Linked DNA regions of Homo sapiens: region 2 is linked to region 1. Evidence: fine-mapped expression QTL. A gene starts in region 1. The other region holds a variant in brackets. All regions are shown on one strand. Distances are from middle to middle.

Evidence for each region. PIP is the estimated chance that this variant, and not a neighbour inherited with it, causes the effect. A credible set is the group of variants that fine-mapping cannot tell apart.
Region 2: its variant is the best candidate, but not a certain one, in a credible set for the expression of KCTD15 in blood mononuclear cells (TOPMed, PIP 0.52).

What each region holds. Positions count from the first base shown.
Region 1 is chr19:33,795,373-33,798,272 of GRCh38, forward strand. It overlaps KCTD15 (potassium channel tetramerization domain containing 15), which reads left to right and starts at 1,498. Exons shown (of 7, transcript NM_001129994.2): 1 at 1,498-1,615. RefSeq lists a silencer at 77-196.
Region 2 is chr19:33,827,494-33,830,393 of GRCh38, forward strand. No RefSeq gene overlaps it. Among named protein-coding and RNA genes, the nearest start is that of KCTD15, 32 kb to the left of the region's middle. The variant A/T (reference allele first, on the strand shown) is at 1,063.

The sequences.
Region 1 (2,900 bases):
CACTTCACCTTCCTCCCACTGGCACCCCGAGTCCCCCTCACCCCAGCTCCAGGCCGACCCCGAGCGCCCCCCACCCCGGGAGTGCGGCCGCTAGGGGGCGTCCAGGCCCGGCCGGAGCCGGCGGTCGGGACCCAGGCGCCGTTCCGGCCCGTGCGCACCCGCCCCGCGGTCCCAGCCGGTCTCCGGCCCGGGCGTCCCTGGAGCCAGGCGGGGGCGCAGTGCCGGCCAGTCGCGCGCTCCGTTTCCTAGGAGCCGGGAAATGGTCGCCGAGGAGGAGGAGGAGGCACGGGCGGGGCGCAAAGGAAACAGGAGGAAGAGGAAGGGGAGGAGGAGTGGGAGTGGGAGAAAAGGAGGAAGGGGCGGCCGAAGCGGAGACTGGGGAGGGGCGTCCGGGGCGCGGACCTCGGCCGCGGGGAGTCTTGGCTGCCGCCGTCTCCATCGCGCCGCGCGCGTAAAGGAAATGGCGCGTCTAGCCGCGAGCGGTCGGCCCGGTGCCCCAGCGCGTCCCTCCCCCGCGGCGGCCGACCGCGTGTCCGCAGACGTCACGGGAGAGGGGCAGCGGGGCAGAGACCCTGGGAGGGCGGCCAGGGAGCGGGGGAGGGGCGGCCTGGCCCCCGGCTCCGCTCCAGCCCCGACCGACTGGCAGCCCAGTTTCTTCCCAAGTCCCGCCCCCAGCCCCGGGCGCCGCGGCGGCGGCTGCTCTCCTCTTTGTAACCGAGGAGTCAAGAAATGTGAGAAACGTGCCCTGTGTTACTTATTTGGGAGCCGAAAATTTATGCCCAGCTGAAAGCGCCCGGGGAAATATTACATCAGATGAAATGACAATGATTAAAATCAGCCTCTCCCCCGCCCCCTCCCCGAGCCCGGAGGAGGCCCGGGCGCCGCGTGGCCGGCCGGCGGGGGGCGGGGGGCTGGGCCGCGGAGGGCGCTGGGGCCTGGGCGCACCGCTCCCGGGAGGGTCCTGGCCGCGGCCCCGGCGGGAAGGCGCGGGCTTCGGGAGAGGCGGGTGGGGATCGCCCGGCGAAAGGAGGGGAAACGGCGCGTTTTTGTCGCCAGGCGCGGGCGCGCGGAGCTAATTGCGACTCTAATCCTCTGCCCCGCGGCGCAGCCGAGCCCCGAGCCAGGAGTCGCCGCGCGCGCCCGTTCGCGCTGGGTAATTTGGGGCCGGATCGCTGCCCTTTACGTCCGGGCTGGGCCGCGGCGAGGCGCTGGCTAGGGGCTGGAGTGGGGGGCTGGTTTTCTCTCCAGCAATCGAGGGAGGCCGCCGGAGAGAGAGGAGGGAGGAGAGGAGGTGGGAGCGGCGGGAGGGCAGCCGGAGAGCGGCGCGAGGAGGAGGCGGCGGCGGCGGAGGCGGCGGCCGCGAAGAGGGGAGGAGGCGAGGGGAGGGTGGGGAGGGGAGGCCCCGGCGCGCCGCGCCGCGAGGGGCCGCGTGAAGCGGGGGCCGGGGCGGGAGGGGTGGGTGGGGGGAGGGTTGGGGGCGAGAGAGAAAGTAACTCCAGGACGAGACCGGAGCGACCCGCGCAGCGAGCATAGGCGGCGAAGCTGCGCCCGGCGCCCGAGACCGGCAGCTGCGTGGGGCGGGGGCTGCGCCCGAGCCCGATCTGCCGGCTCCGAGGTAAGCTCAGCGCGGGCGGCCACCGCTCAGAGCCGCGCAACCCTGCCCCGAAGTGGCTGCGATACCGAGAAAGTCGCCCGGCCAGGGTCTGGACCTGGGCGGGGGCGGCCGCTTTGTCCCTCTGCTGGGCGGCGGGGGCTGGCGGCGCGGGGGTGCCCAGCACAAAGGCCTGGTGCAAGAGTGGGGTTGCCCACGTGGGCTGGTCCTGGCCGCGGGTGGACCCTCCCCACGCGGGCGGTCTCGGAGCTTCCTGCCGCGCGGTGTGTGTGTGTGTGTGTGTGTGTGTGTGTGTGTGTGCGCGCGCGCGCGCGCGCGCTTGTGGAGGTCCCCGCACTCTGGCCCCTGTTCTGGGCCGAGCGCCCTGCAGAGCTGGCGAGTTTCCGGGGTCAGAAACGGGCTCACGCAACTGGGGCTTCGGGATGCACAAGTCCCGGCTTGGCGCCCAAAATCAGAGAAAGTCTCCAGTGGGACAGATGTGCGTCCTCTGACGCCCACCCCACGAGTCCGAAACCTGGCAGGAGGGGCTGTCGCGCTGGTGGTGGTCCCGGGCGCGCAGGGTTTGGGGCTGGGAGAGGGGCCGCGATGGGAGGGATCGCCGCCTGCAGATCCGGTTCCCCGCTGCCCGCCCGCACCCCCTGACCTGGACGCGCGCACCCGGCACACACTCGCAAACACACCCGGGGGCGGACCCCCGCCTCTGCAGCGCCTTTCTGTCTTCCGGCGGCCCCCACCCGCGACTGCAGAAAGATAAGCTTCAAGTTTTCGCTCCGTATCTCAAATGTGCATGAAGGAATTTAACTGCACGAGTGAATAACAGCATTAGTTTCAATTAATTTTTTTTTAATCCCGGCAACAATAAACTTTGAGAACAAAAGCGCTTTTACGTCCTTAATTAGGCGAGCTTCCCATCTGTGGTCTCCAAGTGTCTGCCTCTTGATTTAACTTTGTCCCCGCCCCGCCTCCGCGGCAACCCCTCCCAGCCCAGCCCCGCGCTTCGGGTGCCGCGGCCACCCCGCCCCGCGGCGCCTCCAGCCTTGGCCCAAGCCCTCTCCCGTCGCCCCTAAGTTCACACCGGCCGGCTGGCTCCGCGGCGGAGGCGGGAGGGGGGGGGTGGGGAGGCTGGCGCGCACCAGGTGGCCCGCCTGCCTCTCCGGGGCCACCCCTGGGACAATTGTGCAGGCCCCCAGGACTTTCGCCCCGGGCCAGCGCCCTGAGTGCGGAGCCGAGGGGAGCTCGAGAGGCGCCTTCTGTTTACCTTTTATGGTTAAAATAACAGCTTAGCAAA
Region 2 (2,900 bases), 32 kb after region 1:
TTTATATTTATTTATTTATTTATTTATTTATTTATTTATTTATTTATTTATTGAGACCTAGTCTTGCTCTGTTGCCCAGGCTAGAATACAGTGGCACGATCTCAGCTCACTGCAACCTCCACCTCCCGGGTTCAAACGATTCTCGTGTCTCAGCTTCTCAAGTAGCTGGGATTACAGATGTGCACCACCACACCCGGCTAATTTTTGTATTTTTAGTAGAGATGGAGTTTTGCCATCTCTACTCATTGACCAGGCTCATCTCAAACTCCTGACCTCAAGTGATCTGTCAGCCTCTGCCTCCCAAAGTGCTGGGATTACAGGCATGAGCCATTGTGCCTGGCCAATTTTTATTTTTGCAGAGGTGGAGGTGCCTTTCTATGTTGCCCAGGCTGGTCTCAAACTCCTGGCCTCAAGTGGTCCTCCCACTTCAGCCTCCCAAAGCGCTGGGATTACAGGCATGAGCTGCCGTGCCCAGACAAGTAGCTCCCTTACTAGCCTTCCCTCTCTTGGCTTCCTTCCTTGCCCTGTCTTACTTCCCTCTCTCTCTTCCTATATACCAGGAATCACCTCCCAGTGAATGCTGCGTTCAAGGTCTTGTCTCGGCATCAGCTTCTGGAGCATCCCAATCTAAAACACTGCCATGAACCGTGATTGGGACTTGGGCTTCTATTTTTATTTTTATTTTGAGACGGAGTCTCGCTCTGTCTCCCAGGCTGGAGTGCAGTGGCATGATCTCGGCTCACTGCAACCTCTGCCTCCCGGGTTCAACTGATTCTCCTGCCTCAGCCTCCCCAGTAGCTGGGACTACAGGCACATGCCAGCATGCCTGGCTAATTACTTGTATTTTTAGTAGAGATGGAGTTTCACCGTGTTAGCCAGGATGGTCTGGAACTCCTGGCCTCCCAAAGCGCTGGGATTACAGGCGTGAGCCACTGCGCCAGGCCAGGACTTGGGCTTTTCCTGAGCTTGAGAGCAGTGGCCACTGCCCAGTGGTGAGCAGAGGAGGGAAATAGACTGAAGGGGGCTGGGGAGGAGCAGGGAAACCAGTTGGATGCGACCATG[A/T]TCCTTCAGAGCGAGCTGAAGGTGGCCTGGAGCAGGGTGAGAGACGTGGGAGTAGGGAGAGGCAGTTCCATCCTGGGTACACTTGGAAGGAGGAGCCAACATAACTTGATGCCTGCTTAGATGTGAAATGTGGGAGGCAGTGAGGTGTCTAGGGTGGCTACAAGGGGGTTGGCCTGAGCAAAGGAAGGATGGAGTTGCCTTTTGCTGGGATGAGAAGATTGATGGTGTTGGGCAGATGGGGCAGGCTGTTGAGATGCCTGTTAAGCACAGGACTGACAAAGCTGGGCTGGGAGACAGGCAGGTACTTGGGAACTCAGGAGGGAGTCCAGGCTGCAGGTGTACGTTGGAGGGTCCTCACAAGTTAGACAGCATTCAAAGCCAAGACTGGATAAGGTCTCCAAGGCAGTAAGTGTCAAAAGAGAAGAGACTGGCTGGGCGCGGTGGCTCACGCCTATAATCCCAGCACTTTGGGAGGATGAGGCGGGCAGATGTCTTGAGGTCAGGAGTTCGAGACCAGCCTGACCAACATGGTGAAACCCTGTCTCTACTAAAAATGCAAAAATTAGCTTGCCATGGTGGCGGGCACCTGTAATCCCAGCTACGTAAGAGGCTGAGGCAGGAGAATCTCTTGAACCTAGGAGGCGGAGGCTGCAGTGAGCCGAGATCGTACCAGTGCACTCCAGCCTGAGCAGCACAGCAAGACTCCATCTCAAAACACACACACACACACACACACACACACACACATTAAAAAAAAAAAAAAAGAAGAGGTTTCCAGGATGAGCCCCGGGCACTCGGTGTTTGGAAGCTGGGAGAGGGAAGAAGGGTGCAGCAGAGGGTTTGGAGAAGGAGTGACCGCAGGGTGGGAGGAAAGAGAGAACAGGAGAGAAATGGAAGCAAGAATGGACCACACTTGATGGAAAATTATCTGATAAAATATTTTTAATTAATTTTGGTGTATTTTGAAACAATCACAAATTTACCAAAAAAATTTGCAAGGACAGTACAAAACTGTTTTGTTTGGTTTTACCATGAACAAAAGTATTTATTTAGAATGAGAAAAGTCACAACATAATACAAATTTAAAATACCACAAAATGGCCAGGCATGGTGGCTCATGCCTGTAATCCCAGCACTTTGGGAGGCCAAGGCAGGAGGATTGTTGAGCCCAGGAGTTCAAGACCAGCCTGGGCAACGTAGCAAAATTTAGCTAGAAATGGTGGTGCATGCCTGTAGTCCCAGCTATTCTGGAGGCCAAGTAGGGAAGATCCCTTGAGCCCAGAAGGTCAAGGCTGCAGTGAATTGTTGATCATGCCACTGCACTCTAGCCTAGGTGACACAGCAGGACTCTAGCTCTAAAAAATAAAATAATAAAATACTATGAACATCACAAAATTCAGAACAATACCATATTAGTATTTCATTCCTATATTATTAATCAACTGGCTGATGTAACACGCTTCCTACATAATTTAGCTGTCTACCCTGATCACTTCTTCAAATAGCAACAATAATATATGTTTTTATAGAGAGAATAGAAAAGCAATTTTGCATTTCCTCTAGAGTGATTGATCCAAAATTGTGATTTTTTATTATCAATATTGGAGGAAGCAAAACTTCTTTTTTTTTTCTTTTTTTGAGATGGAGTCTCGCTCTGTCACCCATGCTGGTCTCAAACTCCTGGGCTCAAGCAAGCCTCCTGCCTTGGCCTCCTAAAGTGCTAAGACTACAGGCGTGAGCCACTGCACCCAGCCCAATACTATTTTTTGATGAACCATTTCATATTGTTACTGACATGATGCCCCTTCACCCCCAAAATAGCTTGTGTTTTCTACAAA